3 linked regions of the Homo sapiens genome follow. The protein of the gene in region 3 purifies or fractionates together with the protein of the main gene of each other region. This does not show direct contact. Each region holds a gene or a part of one and is shown on either strand. Other genes may lie near its edges.

Region 1 (7,036 bases), about 32 Mb from region 3:
AATCTATAGGTTAATTTGAAGAGATTTGAAACATTTACAATATTAAGTTTTCTGGTTGATGTTTAGGGTATCTCTGTTAATTAATTTTTCTCCAGTTTCTCTAAGATTTTATATTTTTGTTGGTGAAGGCCTTGCACATATTTTGTTAGATTTATTCCTAGATCCTTGATAGTTTTAATTCTGTTGTAAATTGTAGCTTAAAAAATTCCCTTACTGAATTTTGTTGCTGGCATATAGAAATACAATTAGTTTTTCTATATTTTTTATTTTTTGAGACCGAGTCTCGCCTTGTCGCCCAGGCTGGAGTGCAGTGGCACAATCTGGCTCACCGCAACCTCCACCTTCCAGGTTCAAGCAATTCTTCTTCCCCACCCTCCTGAGTAGCTGGGATTACAGGCGTGCACCACCATGCCCAGCTAATTTTTTTTTTTTTTTTTGGTATCTTTAGTAGAGATGGGGTTTCACCATGTTGGCCAGGCTGGTCTCAAACTCCTGACCTCATGATCCACCCGCCTCAGCCTCCTGAAGTGCTGGGATTACAGGTGTGAGTCACCGCACCCTGCCGGTTTTTCTATATTTGAATCCAGAAACCTGACTCAATTAGGCCAATAGTTTTAATAATTTGTCGTGGATACTTCTGGATTTTCTAAGTATACTAAATCATATAATCTGCAAATAGAGTTTTAGTTCTTCTTTTTCAATCTTGATACTTTTTTGTTCTTACCTATATTGTTTTTATTCATGGAGTCTCATTTCCTGGTGTGCTTTGTTACTGTTGTATGCTGGAGATTGTGTTTCGAAAGTTATGTGTGGACTATATTGAAGCTTAGGAGGATTATATCTTTCTGGAAGGGTTTTCATTTGTTTTTTTTTTTTCATTGGCCTGGGGTCATTGCTGGTCCAGGCTAATTTTAATTTAAATCTGGGATCTGAGATCTCAGAATCACTAGATAAGTTGAAAATGGGTTGTAGATCCATGTGAAGGCTGATAAGGTTCTGGTTCATCCTCAAGTAATTGTTCACAGCTACAGGAATTTCAGGGGTTTCTTCCTGACTCCATTGAGTTTTAAATTTCTGTGCCTAAATTTTTTTTGTCTATTTCTAGAAATTTTTTTTTCTTTTTCCTCTTTTTCCTTATATAGGCCTAATCATCTCTGAAATGTCATTTCTTACATTCATCTAAATGTGTGTTTGGAACCTGTTTAATAAAACACAGGTTTCATTTAGTGATATAAAACAACACATCACAAAGGTTTTGTGCACATTGCTTGATTTTAGGTCTTAGGGCTGGATGTTTGTATGTTCCTGTAAGGGCTCAACGGGCTCAGAAATGTCATTTCTTAGATTCTACAAACTGTGTGTTTGGAACCTTTTTAATGAAAACCCAGGTTCCATTCAGTGATGTAAAACAGCACATCAGAAAGCTTTTTCTTCTTCTTCTTCTTTTTTTTTTTTTTGATAATGGTTTGCTGTGTCACCCAGACTGGAGTGCAGTAATGTGATCATGGCTTACTGCAGCCTCTAACTCCTGGGCTCAAGCAATCCTCCCACCTTAGCCTCCCAAGTAGCTGAGATAACAAGTGTATACCACCATACCTGGCTAATGTTTTAATTTTTTTTTTTGTAGAGATGGGGTCTCACCGTGTTGCCCAGGCTGGTCTCAAACTCCTGGATTCAAGTGATCCTCCCGCCTTGGCCTCCAAAAGTGCTGGGATTATAGACGTGAGCCACCGTGCCCAGCCTTTTGCTTTTAAAAAAAAAATCACTTTTTATAGTTTCCACTTCATACAGATTGTGCTTGTCTTTTATTTCTGTACACATGGTAGCATAGTTATTATCTGTAAACTTTGTGAATTCTTCCCTGTTGTTTTTGTTCGTGAAGTATAGTTTTTTTCTATACCTTGTTATAAAATACAACGTGCTTGACATTGTATTTGGAAATTTATTTGTAGGAATACTTTGAGGTGTAATGTGAAGGTTCCTCCAGAGAGGATTTGAGTTTGCTTTTGCGAGGTGCCTGGGCATTTGAATCAGGTACCGCCTTAAAACAAGTTCAAGGCTTGGGATTCCCTGATATCCTACATCATTTGAGCAGGAAGGTCTCTCGTCAGATATCCCACTTTGTGTGGGCCTGACTTTGTATATTAACTTTCTGTGCTGTAAAGATGTTTTAAAAATTTTATCAGTGTTTTGTTTTGTTTTGTTTTCTCTAGGAGGTTGACCCAAATAATATAGCCTGTTTTACTGAAACAGCAAGTTCTACTGCAGTTTGTTTAACTAGATACATGTTGGACATTTAGTTTTTTTCTTTATTATTATAAATAACACTGTAATAAAGAAACGTTTTTATTTGTGTGCTTGTCCTGTTATTTACTTGTGATTAATCTGAAAATAAAATAGTTACAATCTGCATTTTTAAAGGCTATTTGATATGTATTATCAAAGTATGGTACACAAAGATTGTCCTAACACTGTGTATTCTAAATCTTTTTAACTTTTACCATTTTGATAGATGGAAAATAGTACACATTATTATTTTAATTTAGCATTTATTATTTTTACTTATATAACTATTGGCTGTTCATGTTTTACTACTTTTGGGTTATGAAAGCTTACATACTGCCAACTAGGGGCTTACTGAGGCTAACTCACACATCAGATGATGTAAATATTTCCCTCAGTTTGTCACTTATATTTCATCTTCATTTACAAAAATATATATATGTTTTGGTATAGAAGTTTAACGCTTGTACTAATCAGATCTATCAATTTTTTATAAAGCCATAATCAGTCTGAGATAATAAATTTATAGTTGTTCCTAGAAAAACTAGTGTTTTAAGTTTGGAATTGTCTTATGTGGCTAGAAAATTGAGAAATAGTCAAACCACTCTAACCTCAATTAGGATATTTTAATATATTAACATAACTCAAATTAGGATAATGCTCATTTTTAGTCTATATTAACCTGAGTTTTTATGATAAGTTTTTTCCTTTTTCTCATTAAAATATTTTCTCTTTGTCTGCTACTGTTCTTTTGATGTATACCTTCAGAAATTGGCAGGGTTGAAATTTGAAAGAATATTCAATTTAGGTTTTTTTCTGTATTTTGCCTTCACTAATGATAGTGATTCAGATATCATGTTAGAAATGATTTGAGATATCAAGGTTTTAAAATTTTTAATAAAAGTAAACAGTATTCATTAAAACAGGAAATCATTTTATTGAAACTGAATGAGGACTTCAAATTTTTGTAACAGCTTAAAATATGTTTTTTTAGATAAGTGATGAAGAGAAGACTCTTCGAGAACAGGAGATTGTTGCCTCATCACCAAGTTTAAGTGGACTTAAGTTGGGGTTCGAGTCCATTTATAAGGTATGTAAACATGTAAAATACTTCCTAGGTTTTGTTAAATATGTCGCATTGAGCTTTATATACATATTTAATTAATCCATTTTTATAGCCTCTCATCATCACAGCTACTCTGTCTCCTGCACAGATACTGTCCTCATTGCACTAATGGTGTGCCAATGTTCTCTCCTGGGCTGTCTCCTTCCACGGACGCATTCCCAACCCTGCTTGGGCTCTGACCTCCCATTACAGGCTGTTTTCCTAATGGAATACCCTCCTTGCATTGTTTGGGTTCTTACACCCTGCACTGGGCTATCCCCTGCCAGGAAACCCTCATCACCCATTTGGCCCAACACTCTGTTTGGATTGCTGCCTTGCGTGGAAGCCCCCTTTCGCTTCTCTTGACCTCTGACATCGTGGTGTCTTGCCTCATGGTCTCTCTGTGATTCCACTGGGCTCTGACATTGTAAGCCTACGTTTTTTCCTATGGGAATGCCCTCCTTAACCTACTCAGATTCCATCATCCTGTGCTTGGCCACCTCAGTTTCCCCTCCCCACTCAGTTCAGATAACTACGTCACATGAACCCTTCCAGAAGGGGAAGAGGGAAGAGTTTAAATTCATTTTACAATTTGATAACTGCAACCCCACAATTTCCTTTGAAAAGAATGTGCTAATTATTATGAGTGAGTGCCAGTAGTTTAAAGTCCTGCCCCATTCCAGCTTCTTCGTTTCGACTGTTGGGCCATCATTCAGTCAGCCTTTCAAGCCTAGAGTGTGGTGATCAATATTTATTTCTCTTACACCACACATTTCCAGTTACTCTGCCTTCACATCATCTTTTGCTTCTACTTGGGCATTTTTGTTTCCACTGTGACCACCTTAATAAGCTAGAATCATGAAATACTATGGCTAAAGAATCCCTAAGGGTCAGTTAGCCTGTGTCTTCCTCCCCTCTCTCAGCTTTACAGATCTGGCTGCTGAGATTTAGAGGCATTCATTAAATTCACCAAATAAGTCTAGTCAGTATCAGAGCTTGGACTAGAACTCATGTTTCTTCCCTATATTATTGCAGTAAACCCTCTTACCTGCTCATCTGATATGTCCTATGTAAGCTACCTATTTGGTGCAGTATCACACAATTTACCCTGTAGGTCTGTTTGACTTTCCGTGTGTGCCCATGAGGGCAGGGACTGTGTTGCAGTTGTAGAAATAGGTAAATTAATTGAAAGTTGTTAAAAAGCACATGATCTGTTTATAGTGTGAGATGTCGTTGGATATACAGAAAATTGTATGCATTTATATTTAATTCTTCCTTAAAACTTGAATGAATAGGCAATTTGGGAATCATTTTTCACCTAATTTTTTAACCTCGTTTTTTAAAAAAGAAAAATTCTATTGGAGAGTAAGAATGATTTTTACAGTTTACTAATATCATACTTCGCTCATCTCTTAGAATTTTAAGATTGTTCATAGGGTTTAAAAATCTAAGATTTTTAAAAATAAATTCTTGGGGCAAATACTTCTTTTAATAGCAAAACTGAATGCTTATTATTTCCATTTCTTAGTACTGAGATTAGCTTTTTCAGTATATTTCTCTGGAGTGAGAATGGAAACATACATGAAGAAATTGGAATTTACTTACAAGTAATTTTCAGCTCTGAATATGTTGTTTACAAATTAGGATTCTCTCTGATGCAGAATACAAAGTGGGATATGTGAGGTGAATGCAACATGTGTAGAAGTCTTGAGTTAAGAGTTTGAAATCCTGGGGATTATGTTTTGTAAATTCAGAGGTTAAGGAATAAAAGTAAGCATTCCAACTTGGCCTTTTAGTGTTACTATTTTTCAAAACATCAACTCTGAAACGAACATATTTTTGTACTGCCACTGTTTGCTAATGCTGTTGAGTTTTAAGGAGGATAAATTAATCATTTTGATATTCTTTTGGCTCTGCTAGGACTAATGAATTTCTTTGTTTATACTTTATACATATGAAGACTTAGGATTTCTTAATGACAGGTGCTGACTTATTTTGCCTGTTTTACTCTTAATTCAGATCCCTTTTGCTGATGCTCTGGATTTGTTTCGAGGAAGGAAAGTCTATTTGGAAGATGGCTTTGCTTACGTACCACTTAAGGACATTGTGGCAATCATCCTGAATGAATTTAGAGCCAAACTGTCCAAGGCTTTGGCAGTGAGTATTTTACTTGATTTCTGTATCTGACATGTTCACACTTTCAGTTATATACCCCTGGTAGTTTTATTCTGTGTTTCTCTAGGAAATAAGTTAATTCAGTTTTCATAATGATATTCAGATTACATATGATGTTGTACTGTTAATCCCAAAATTCCTAGGTTTTTATTTGTTACTATCCATAGTTGGTTTTTAAGTTTTTTTTCTTGATCCTACTAATACCAATGCTGAGTGATTAATTTTGTGAGTAACCTCTGTGGGTTTCTTCATGGTCATGTCTTTTTTCCTTAGAAATAGACTTCGTATATGGCTCTTAACAATTAGTGTGGCCTGTGGTAGATATAACTCCTAGATTTCTGTTCTGAATTAGTATTTGGTATCAGTAGAAGACAATATAGAAGAAAATCTTAAGTACTAACACTGTGATATGCTAGTGCTGCAATGAGTAGCTCCATACTGGGTGAATTTGGAGGTAGCTGTGTTGAACAAATGACATGATCAGTGATTTTTAAGTAGTTTGTTGGAAGTGTGACTCTTAAGTGGTGATATCTTAAAACTATACACATTTTTATATGTAAAACACATATTTTACAGTTGTTGTCTCTTAATCTGAGTCAGTTTTTAATACTTTTTTTGTACCTAATGCAGAAGAAGACTTCAAAGGTTTGTGACATGGCTGTTTTAAACTGTACTGATTATAGTGTAAGCATATGCCAAGCTTTCCTTCTCAGTTAAAAATTGTAGTATTTTCTGATATAAATAAATTTTTATTGACTCTCTGGGGTTACCTAAATATGTATAATTTAGCTATGTCAGCACTTGGGAAGACTAAAATACTAACTCTGTGTTTATTAAATGAAGGAATTTATGAGAACACCTAGCATAACAGGTATTTAGTAACTGTTAATATTCTTTCTCCATTCCTAATCCTGTTATTTCTTTATCCTCATGAAAGTTGATGCTTTTAAATTTTTTCTTTACTTGTCTGTCACTACCCTAGATTATATTCTAGTTACAGCTAAGAATAGTGTCTTTCACCACTGTGGAAGACACTGATACTTGTCTACTGTTTGGCCATTGCTCTTTTATTATTCTTAGTTTTATTCACCCATATTCTCTCTGTTGACATTTTAGACCACACTTCTTTGTGTGAAATAGACAAATATTTTCCAGCATATTGGATAGTTTTAGCTGTCATCTATTAAATGCTGGTGGTGGACCCCAGTCTCCATGACAACCAAAAATATCACCGTGCATTTCAGAAAACTTCTGGCATGTTAATGCTACTATTAATCTGATCATAGTCATTTCCTTCTTACCAAATTTTTAATTTATGCCTGTGACAATGTCATTGTGGCTAAAAAGTATGAGTTCTTTGGGGGCTCCTGAAAAAAGTTTTTCTTGCTAAAAAAAAAAAAAAAAAAAGGCATGTGGGATGAAGTAGTCTTTTTTTCCCCCCTCTGGATATTGTTGTAACTGAATGTGATGCCT
Region 2 (7,986 bases), on a different chromosome or scaffold from region 3:
CCTCTCACCTGGATTTTTCTAGCAGCCTGCTTACTGGCCCCCAGCCTCCTGGCATGACCCTCCGATCATCCAGCCTCCCCACACCAGCCAGGGCAAGCTTCCCAAAACACACATCTGACCCTGCCCCTCACCTGCAGAGACCCTTCCACTGTGATCCACAGCGCCCCACGCTCCAGGAATAAAGTCCAAACCACTAAGCATGGCTGGCCTGGCCCCAGTCAACACCCTAGGCACTCACCTACCTCCAGGCTTCTGCACAAGCTATTCCATTTCTGCAGCCCATAACACCAACCTCTTCCCACTGGCTGTCGAGAAAACTAAACTCTCTGACCCGCATCCCTCCTTATAGCCAAAGGCATCAGCCCCTCCTCCTATGATCATAGTTCTCCCCTTCCAGACAAATGCATATGTTCACAAAGACTTTCAGGGCATAAAGTATCCCCTTAAGGATGTGGCTGCTAGCCTCATCTTTGACACAGTGTCTTGAAATATTTGTTGAAGGAACAAATGATAAATAAATGAATGAATGCACATATAAAATATCCCTGTGAGGCTCTGTTTCTGAGTTGGTCAGAGATGTAGCCTGGTGAGGAGAAATGCTCAGAGCCAGACAACTGGCTCCTTCATTCTCCTGCCAAGGTCAGCCTTCAATAAAAAACAGCCCCGGCCAGGCGCAGTGGCTCATGCCTGTAATCCTAGCACTTTGGGAGGCGGAGGCAGGAGGATCACCTAAGGTTAGGAGTTTGGGATCAGCCTGGCCAACATGGTGAAACCCTATCTCTACTAAAAATACAAAAATTAGCCGGGCAGAGTGGCGGGCATCTGTAATCCCAGCCACTCTGGAGGCTGAGGCCGGAGAATTGCTTGAACCCGGGAGGCAGAGGTCGCAGTGAGCCGAGATCGCGCCATTGCACTCTAGCCTGGGCTGCAGAGCGAGACTCCATCTCAAAAAACAAAATAAAACAAAACAAAACAAAACAAACGAAAAAAAGCAGCCCCTAGGACCTCCAGTGGGGGTAGGGGCAGCTTCCAGCCTCTGAACCTAGGGTGAGAACTGTATCCCCAACATCAAGAATCAGTACTAGACTGCAGGGCAAGCCGACTGCTCCATAGCTGGAAAGTAACTCCAAGAGGACAAATCCTGAGTTGCCCTAGGCCACACCATTTCTACAGTGCTCCTGACATAGGTGCTCAATACACGCTGGTTGATGGAGCCAGCCAGTTCATGTGCCCAGCTGAAATGTATGTCCAGACACTGCATTGAAACTCTGCACTTCTCTTGGGTAATTGCACCCTTGTCAAGCATGCAAATCCTTTAAAAAGGATCCCCCTGCCAGAACCACCAAGATCTGGGCTTGTGTCTGTACAAATTCCTCGGGAACTGTCCCTGGCTGCAACAGGAAGGAAGGAGGCGCCAGAGTCTGGGGGTGCACACGTTTGTCCAGGAACCTTGATGGATTAGCAGAGGGAAAGCCAGACCAAGGGAGAAGCTTTGTCCAAATGTCTTGGTTACTCATTAGCCAAACCTCAGAGCTTCTCTCTGCAAGGGGGGATCAGAGGGGCAATTAACCCATTTGGAAGAAAGGTTAAGCTAAATAGCTCTCTAATCCTGCGGTTTCAAAAGATAGCAAGTAGGGTTTCTGGAATCTTTAGATACTGTAAGGCAAGCACAGGGGATGGGGCACGGGAAAGGAGAGGCCATAGACTGAGGGAGGCACTGATACTTATAGAGCCCCTACCTGTTTCATACCCTTCATTCCGATCCATCCTAGGCCAAGCCCATTTTGCCCAGAGGGTCCCCATCTGGATTCAGATAGGTTAAGTGTTTTGCCCAAGGTCACAAAAAAGGTGCAAAGAAAGTGTTTTTCTTTGTGCAACAGGTACAGTCCTTTCCCTTCCAAAAGATAATGGCTGCTCCTGGCTAGAGAAAGTTCAGTCCCGGCAGGCAGGAAGCCCTAGCCACCTAGGCGTCGCGCGGTGGAGGTCACACGCCTGCTCCGGGACTGGACAAACAGCAGGGTTTTAAGGCGCGGCGTCCCCACTCCCAGGCGAGTTTGTGCCAGCAGGGTGTGAAAAGGTCAGGCTCGGGTGGGGGTCAACGAGCCGCTTCCCATCCCGAGGGCCCCACCCGTGAGCCCGGGTGGGCCGCGCCGCCATCGGGGCGGGGACCACGCGGGCCTGCCTGGTAACAGGGGGACTGAGGCTTAATCCCATCAGGGCGCCTCCGCCCTGGGAAGACGAGCGGAGGGGGGGCGCAGGCCAGGCCGAGAGGACGTGTCCGGAGCCTCCGCGTCCGAGGGGCCCCGCGCGCCGCCCCTCTCACGCCCCCCGAACCACCGCGCTGTCCTCCGGGCTCCCCTCGACCAGGGTTCCGTCTCGCTCGCCGCCCTTGCTTCCCACTTCCACCTCCGGGGCCTCCAACCCGCACAAATGTCCAGACCCTAGCAGCTCCAGGCTGAGTAACCCAGATCTCCAGCGATCCCTCAGCTCCTAGCCACGGGATCTCTCTGAATCCATTCCCAAGGCTCAGGCTGGCATGGGAGGAGATTGATCCTCTCGCTCCCAGTCTCGAATCACCCTTCGCCGTCACCCCTGACTGGGGATCCAGTGGGACCCCAGGCCTCCAGCGCCCGATCCCCTCCAGGGATCGACTCCCAAGTCGCCAACCAGGTGGCACGTGATCCATTGGTTGCCCTGTGCGGGATCTTCCCGCGGGATCCACTCTCAAGTCTCGGGAGACGGATTCCCCGGCTCCCAAACCGGGATCCTCCCTCCCTGCAGACCCGGAGTCTGGGGAAATCCTCCGGCTCCCCGCCTCTTCCCCGGCCAACTTTGCCAACTTTTCTCCCGGGGCCTCGGCCGGGCAGAAACTTGGCGGCCCTCGCCAGCCGCCGTCACCCCCAGCTACCTCGTCGGCCGGGGACAGGAGGCGGCCAGCCGGCCCCCACTGCCCGCAGCCGCTGCGCAACCTACCGTGGAGCCACCGCCAGCCCGCGCCGCGCCGCCACCTGCCCGCAGCCCGCGGCACCTGCCCTGGGAGCCCGCAGCCCCGCGCAGCCTAGCCTGCTGGGGGCGGGGCCTCGAGCGGGGACGCGCCCCCGTCACCATGGGAACTGCCGCCGGCCGCGCCTGCGCGGAGGGGAGCAGAGCAGGCAGGACCCGAGTCCGCAGTGGCGCCTGGGCCTGGGACCTCTCCGGCGGGTCAGAGGTCACGACTCGCTTGGACACCCCTGCCGGAAGCGCTCCCGCCCCTCGAGGCCCGACCCCGCTCTGTCCAATTGGGAACTTTGCTCCGGGTACCCTCCCGCGTTCCCTGGATGTTCCCCAGTCACCAGCCAGGATCCCCCGCCACCGGCACCGACCCGCTGCCCAGCCGGCGACCCCGAGAGCCTAATGCAACCCAGGATTTCAGGAGGCGCTCCATAAATGTGGGCCCACTGACTTGCCTGGGCTGCTGGTGCCGGCCCGGGGGCGGGCAAGGTCTGTGCGCGGTGCTGGCGCCTCCTCGCGCCAAGCAAGGGCACTGCACCTGAGAGTTCGCTGGAGCGCCTACTGTGTGCGCATCCTCCTGCCATTATGTTGTGGGTGTGAGTTGTGGGGTAATGGGTACAGGAACTTGTGGACAAGTTGAGAGAATCGTAGGAAGTCGCCTCTGAAAGAGAAAATACCTGTTCTGTTATCCGTTACTCATTTCATTCAGCAGATCTTTATTAAGCACCTATTGCATGCTGGGTGCTGGAGAACCCAGTGGTGGGCAGCTGGCAAAATCCAGGCTGTTGTGCAGCTTACAGATATTCAAACAAATAATTTCACGAGTATATCAAATTGAATCTGTGACATGTGCTCCTATGGGAAATGTACAGAGCATGAATAACTGGAGGACCTAAAATCAATGTGCCTTTATTATAAGCAAGATAGACCTCAATAAAAAAAGAGAAAGAAAAGGACATCACAGGCTGCGCACGGTGGCTTGTAATCCCAGCATTTTGGGAGGCCGAGGCGGGTGGATCACCTGAGGTCATGAGTTTGAGACCAGCCTGGCCAACGTGGTGAAACCTCGTCACTACTAAAAATTACAAAAATTAGCTGGGCGTGGTGGCGGATGCCTGTGATCCCAGCTACTCGGGAGGCTAAGGCAGGAGAATGGCTTGAACCCGGGAGGTGGAGATTGCAGTGAGCCAAGAGCGCGCCACTGCACTCCAGCCTGGACGACAGAGCAAGACTCCATCTCAAAAAAAAAAAAAAGAAAAAGACATCACATTGTGTGGCTTCAGGAGGATTGGTGGGGAGACTTCTTGCCTCATTTTGCTCTTAAATTGTTGGGTGTGTGTAAGAAACAAGGGTAGCTCCTGTTCTCCACACCGTTTGCACTGCAACCCTTTTGAAGGTCTGATCATCACCATCAGACCCAGGCAGGGTAAACCCTGTTTACCAAACAGCAGCCCGAGAACCCCCAACTGACTTGTGTACAGTGCTGGAACCCAGGAATTGGGGGGCAGAGGTCCCATGAGGTCTCATGTCTCAAGACATTCTCCTTATCATCTGGGTATCTTGAGTACAGTCATCAAAAGGATCAAACCCAGTTGCTTTTACAGACAACTACCACTTCCAGAGAGAAGTCTGTGAGTAGGAGACCAGGAACGGCTGGGTTGAAACTTAAAATCCTTCAAAATCCACGTAAGTCAGGCCTTTACATGACGTGTATGTTATACCAGCAAAGGAAAATCGTTGATTGTCTGCTCTTCTCTCTAGACCTCCTGGAGGAAGGGACTTCTGTCTGTCTTTCACCTCCGATTCCCAGTGCCTAGAACAGGGCTTGGCACACAATAGGTGCTCAAAGAATGTATGCTGAGTGCATGAATGACCAACAGCTGATGACATGCCATCTGCTGCCCCTCCTCCCTAACCTTATGGGAACTTCCTGTCTCTCCTGGGCAAATCTCCATGAACCAGAATGCGTAGGCTGGGGGTTCTGTTCAATGGAATGTTCCATGTTTCTCAGCTCCCCAGCCAATGCAGGCTTCCACCTTGGCATCGCCTCTCCATTCCAGAACATAAGGATGGGAGGGGACAAGATAGTCCTCCTCCTGCCACCCCCCATGGAGACTCAAACCCAGACACGTCCCCAGCCCTGACCATCAACCCTACTCTCTGCCCCAAGAGATGCCCAGCCCAGACCGGGTGTCAGCTCTTCTATCCCTGTCAAGCTTTAAGGGGATTCCAGAGGTGCTGAACTACAACTCCCAGAGTCCTCCTGAACCTGGACCCAGAAGGGGCAGGACTTCCTGGTCAGCCCCCACCTTAGCTGGTTCCCCCTGCATTCCTGTGTCTTCCCGCCTAGGTGAGAGATGCCAGCTCGCACATACCCAGAGGTAGACCCTGACCAAAGAGGTGTCAGGTAGTACAGTTTCCGGAGGCAACACCCCTCCCTCCCCCAACCTCACCACTCCCAGCCCTGGCTTTTCTTTTTCTAAGAATAGAGCACAGTGCTTCCCAGGGATTTTCCCAGAACCCTTTCTTCGCAGTCTTTTGTCCCCTCCTCCAGAAGGTCCTGATTAGCCTGTGTCAGCTCTGTCCAATAGAACTTTCTGCAACGATGGAGATGTTCTATATCTGCACTGTCCAACATTAGCCACAGATGACTATTGAGCACTTAAAATGAGGTCAGGGAGACTGAGGAACTAAGTTTTACATTTTATTTAATTTTAATTAGTATAAATTTTAAAATCCACACGTGGCCCTGGCTACCATATTGGACAGTATAGCTCTACACCCCACACACCCCTTGCAAAGACCATGTTCATGCATTTTCGTTGGTGCATATTTATCCATTTTGTTTTTCCTAAAATTTATCTGCATGTTGAGTGTGAGAGCCGGTATGTTCTTTGAAATGTTTTCCCTCAACACTAGTCCTATGCCCATGCCATTACCCCCACCAGGAAGTCTTTGCCCTCTGCCTCCCCATCATCTAGTTAACAACTAAATGTCCCTCAGATCTTAGCTTCTACATCAGTTCCTCTAAGAAGCCATCCCCAACCACCAAAACTGATTAGATGTTGCAGAATCTGGGGCTGGTGCCCGCACTCATTAAAGTTCTGATCACACTGTAGTGTAATTGCCCAATTACTTTTCACTCACTTTCTAGGCTGTGAGGTCCTTGTGGGAAGAGACTAGCATAGTACCTGAAACAGAGTTGTCACCCAATAAATATTCATGAAGTTCAATGTTGCATAAATGTTTTCACATGCTGGAATCCAGCGTTTGGTTCACGGTAATGATACTAATGAAGGCTATCATTTATTCAGCCAAATATTTTGCCTGTGCTATCTCATTAAACTCCACAACAACCTATAAGACGTGCTCTATTATTATTATTACTTAATTTTTTTCGAGACAGTCCCGCTCTGTCGTCCAGGCTGGAGTGCAGTAGCACAATCTTGGCTCACTACACAGCCTCGCCCTCCTGGGCTCAAGCCATCCTCCCGCCTCAGGCTCCCGAGCAGCTGGGACTACAGGCATGCGCTACCATGCTTGGCTAATTTTTGTGTTTTTGTAGAGATGGGATTTTGCCATGTTGCCCAGGCTGGTTTTGAACTCCTTGTTCAAGCGATTCACCCACATCAATCTCCCAAAGTGCTAGGGTTACAAGTATGAGCCACTGTGCCCCGCTGAGATGCTCTATTATTATCTACCTTTTACAGATGAAGGATCTGAAGCTCAGAGAGGTTAAGTAAGTTGCCCAAGGTCACACAGCTAGTATTTCAGCCTGGCTCCCTGGAAAACAGAGCCCAAGGAAAATTTTATGTACTAATGCTTTATTAGGGATAAAATTCCAGCTCAGTAAGGGTGAAGGGAAGGGGACTTCAAGGCAAGGGAGGAGGGAGAGCAAATATAAGACATGCCTTACTAGGCTGGCTACAGAAGCCACGTGAAACAGACCATGGAAGGAATGAAGGAAGCGCGAGGACTTCATCGGCTGGCGCCTCCCATCCTCTGTCCACGATTAGTCACTGTTGGGCCCAACTGTGTTATCTGTGCCTCCAGACAGCCCCAAGGGAAGCCAATTCCATACACAGGGCTTCACCTGAGCCTAGAAGAGGAGGGTCCAGGGCTCCCTCCCTTGAAGCAGGTCAGGTCTGCTTGAATGACAGCGGGAGATGCAGGCCTAGGTGGCTAAGTAGATGCAGCAACTGACCCAAGCCGCCTGCAGGCGGAAGCAAGAGGAGGCTTGATCTTGTCCAGAGCTGCTGGCTGGCTGGGAAGGACGCAGCTGAGCACACCTGAGAAGGTGCATCAGTCAAGCCTGATACAGCGAGTAAACATCACAACTGAAATCCAAATCCAGTTTAGGCTAACTCCAGTGCCCTTCAACACATATTGATTGAAAGGGGAAAAATGAATATATGAATGATTGAATGAGTGACTGGGGAAAAAACCCAGGCAGCCACCACTCCAGACGCCCTCATTTTACAGGTAGAGAAACTGAGGCCAAGGAGGCAGTGATGCCCCAACTCAGGTCACACTGACTGAGGCGGCAGAGCTGGGACTTGAATGAAGCCTGAGACACGGCTTCACTGAGATTTTCTGCCTCTAACTGGCTGGGAACCTCCTGCTTCTGGCAATACCAACTGCCAGGTGCTCATTCGTTAATCTACAGGGAAAAGCTCGCATTTCCTGTGCACCGAGACGATGTCTTTTGTTCTCACCTTCCTAGCAGCCATCTCCCCTCTGCCAACAGCATCTCCGTTTTCCTCCAGGGAAGAATCCCACCCGCTACACTCAGTCCATGTCGTTTCAAGGGCGGTAAGCCTCGCGACACCCTTACTTGATCCTCACTTTCCAAACCTTAACCCCCAACCCTAGGACACAGGATGTAGGTCTGGCCAATCAGAGCATCCCATTTGCCTGGCCACAGTGATTGATTCGTGGTAGGCATGGGACCCAAGTTTGTCCATTGAGTGTTAATCACAGCACTTGCTGCAATAG
Region 3 (3,047 bases):
CCGCACCCGGCCTGCCAGTGTCTTTTTAATACACATGTGTGTTGGTATTTTTAAATTGTTACAGTATCTAGCATATTGCTTACTCTGAATATTCAGTACTTTTTGAATAAGCAAATATTGCTTCCTTGCTTGGAATCATCAGAGTTTAAAGTAGCTTCGTGGATGGACCATGATCCTAAGATGAGTTTTAATTTTGTGTTTACAGTCATCTCTTGTACAACGTGGAGAAGAAAAGATATACTTACTACTTTGCTTCAGGTACACATAAGAAAACCTCTTTTTTAAAAAAATTTTTATTTTTTTACATAATAGAGACAGGGGCTCGCTGTAGCTTCCAGGCTGGCCTCAAACTCCTGGGCTCAAGCAATCCTCCTGTCTTGGCCTCCCAAAGTGTTGGGATTTCAGGTATGAGACACCACACCTGCCCATTTTTGTTTGGTTTTTTAATGGGCAGGTTCTTGCTCTCCCAGGCTGGAGTGCAGTGGTGTAATCACAGCTCACTGCAGTCTCGAACTCCTGGACTCAAGCAGTCCTCCCACCTCAGCCTCCTAAAGCACTGGGATTACAGGCTTGAGGCACTGCACCTGGCCCTGACCATTTTTTAAAAAGGTTAGGCTTAGTGCAAAGTTTAAAATTATATGATTCTTAAAATACTGAATTAGTTTCTAAACTAAACTAGAGGTATAGGTGGACCTGCTTGAGGTATCTTTGTTTTTATGGAACATTTTTATTACATGCCTTTATAATTTTTCATTGTTCACACCCTGTACTGAAACCTTTTTCTCAAATACCAACTCTTGGCTATGTTAAATTTGTAGACTTTAAAAGATGTTATCTAAATTAATGGTTTAAATATACAAATTGAAAATATTTTCTTTTTAGTGGCAATTTTAAAAGCAGGCCTTAATATGGGACCTGCTTTTAAAGTAAAATATGTGGTACTATGAATTACTAAATTGCTATATACCATGTAATAGTGAGTATAGCTAATATTTAGTATGCCTTTTAAAAATTTTGGACTGCTTTTCGGTTTTAACAAATTCTCCACATGTGAACTACTCAAGAAATTTTCCCTTTTTAATTGCCTCTATAGCACTCATAAGAGCTAGGGCATTAGGATAAACTAGAATATTTTATGTTTATGAATACTTGTATAAACTTAAAAGTGTTTTGATTTCCCACAATTTCCCAAAGGAATGTTTATTTATTAAGAGTTGTGTTGATAATTTAACTGTTACAATTTCAGCAGTTGAATTCAGTGAACACTGGTTGAGGAGTGCCTATTTCTAAGCACTGGGTGTAAGAAGAAAAGACACTTGCAAAGGAAGAGCTAAGATTAACATAATTTCTTTGGTTTTTCTATTGCTTGTTATTATTATGTAAAAACTGGGTGGCAGTTCACAAGGAAGATTGTTGTAACAGAAGAGTGACAACCAATAGTTTTTTGATCATTAAATCAAATTTTGTAAACAGTGGCAGGAGCGTGGACTTAAAACAAGGCTTGCTTATTTGGTTTTGTCAAAGTTTTACGAAAATATATGATATATATTTATACTAAAACTATATAATCCTTAGATTTAGGAAAGCAATCAGTTAATGTCTTTAGCACACTAAAGCAGTATTAAACACAGGTACAAGTTGGAAATTGTAGAAAACTGAAAGAAAACAAGACAAAATGTCTATGGTAGGGAATAAAAGAGTTTAAGATATTATGTAAAATTATGTGTATTTTCTTCTCTTTTACATAAATTGTTTGTGAAAAGTGTGCTCAACTTTTTTACAAGAGTGATATTAACTTGGATTTATTTTTCAATATAATTTGGAGACCCTTTGTTATCCAAATAAAATTGATGAGTTTCTGTGCCTGTAAAAAAAAAAAAAAAAAAAAGAAAAGAAAAGACACTGTTGCATGCCCCAGAAAGCTTGTGGTGGGTGGTAAGTTCTCACGAGATTTATTTATCTGAGCAACATTGGGACTGAGGGAACATCTGAAAGCTACCATCTTGAAAATTTTTGAGGAAGTGTTTCTGAAATATTTAAAAATACTTAAGTCAGTCATTTTGAACAAAAGAAATTGATACAATAAGTTTTTTTTTTTAAGGATGATTGTCTAATTTTGTAATATGTTGTTTTTTAAAAACCTGTCTGATGGTGTTTTATACATTTCTAACTTTTTACCTGAGTTATCTCTTTAGTCTTTTGGAAAATACCCTACACAATACTAACCTTTAAAACTATCAAATTTTTGTTATAAGATAAATGTTATCTTTGTACTAGATAGCAACCCTTTATAAGGTTGTAAGGTATAATAAACTGCTTATTTTTTTACATACTTCATATCAAGCATTTTGCAGTCCAATTATATAGTTGAGGATGGTGTATTTTGATATGTATGAAGTTAATATTTTCAAGTAAGCAATCAGTCTACTACCATCAGATTATAAGCTTTTTTGTAATAATAGGTACATAAAATGTGTATGAAAAATCTACAATAAACATGTTTATCTGATAGCAATTGTCTTGCTTTTTTAATGACCTGAAGATATATGTACGAAGATGAAGCACAATCATCCAAATCCATTGTGATATACTATACTTTTTCTTACGCATCAGTATCATAGATGTTGACTTGCTTTTCCACTATGTGTCAAATATTTTAAAAGAACAATTAAGTTCTTTTGTTTAAAAATGAATGTTTCACTAGTCTCAGAAGCTAAAAAATTGCAGTGCAAATTGTACATGGCAGGAGGTAAATACATATAGTATTGAGTTTCCTTTTTTAAAAAAAGTTTACACATTTAATACAGAGTAATTCCATATAATAACATAAATGCAATGGAACAGGTTTTTGGATCCTGGCTAAAGTATAAGTGCCTCATATGAGAAAAGTCACAAATGTCCATGTTTCTTTGTTTAAACTGGTTTTTAATTTTTATTCTTATTTTTGGAGACAGGTTCTCACTGTCACCCCGGCTGGAGTACAGTCAGTGTTGTGATCATGGCTCACTGAAGCCTCATCTTCTAGGCTCAAGCAATCCTGCCTCAGC

What was found. The genes of interacting proteins can lie anywhere in the genome.
Region 1: the proteins of PM20D2 (region 3) and PRIM2 purify together in Homo sapiens (affinity purification with mass spectrometry; 2 studies listed by BioGRID and IntAct, with this or other methods). This does not show direct contact.
Region 2: the proteins of PM20D2 (region 3) and KIAA1671 purify together in Homo sapiens (affinity purification with mass spectrometry; 2 studies listed by BioGRID and IntAct, with this or other methods). This does not show direct contact.

The regions. Positions count from the first base shown.
Region 1 is NC_000006.12:57,376,624-57,383,659, forward strand, and holds part of PRIM2 (DNA primase large subunit), read left to right. Parts: intron 1-3,277; coding exon 3,278-3,373; intron 3,374-5,407; coding exon 5,408-5,545; intron 5,546-7,036. UniProt on the Homo sapiens protein: Regulatory subunit of the DNA primase complex and component of the DNA polymerase alpha complex (also known as the alpha DNA polymerase-primase complex) which play an essential role in the initiation of DNA synthesis.
Region 2 is NC_000022.11:24,947,760-24,955,745, reverse strand, and holds the start of KIAA1671 (uncharacterized protein KIAA1671), read right to left. Parts: upstream 3,031-7,986; 5' UTR 2,974-3,030; intron 1-2,973.
Region 3 is NC_000006.12:89,163,055-89,166,101, forward strand, and holds the end of PM20D2 (xaa-Arg dipeptidase), read left to right. Parts: 3' UTR 1-2,511; downstream 2,512-3,047. UniProt on the Homo sapiens protein: Catalyzes the peptide bond hydrolysis in dipeptides having basic amino acids lysine, ornithine or arginine at C-terminus. Postulated to function in a metabolite repair mechanism by eliminating alternate dipeptide by-products formed during carnosine synthesis.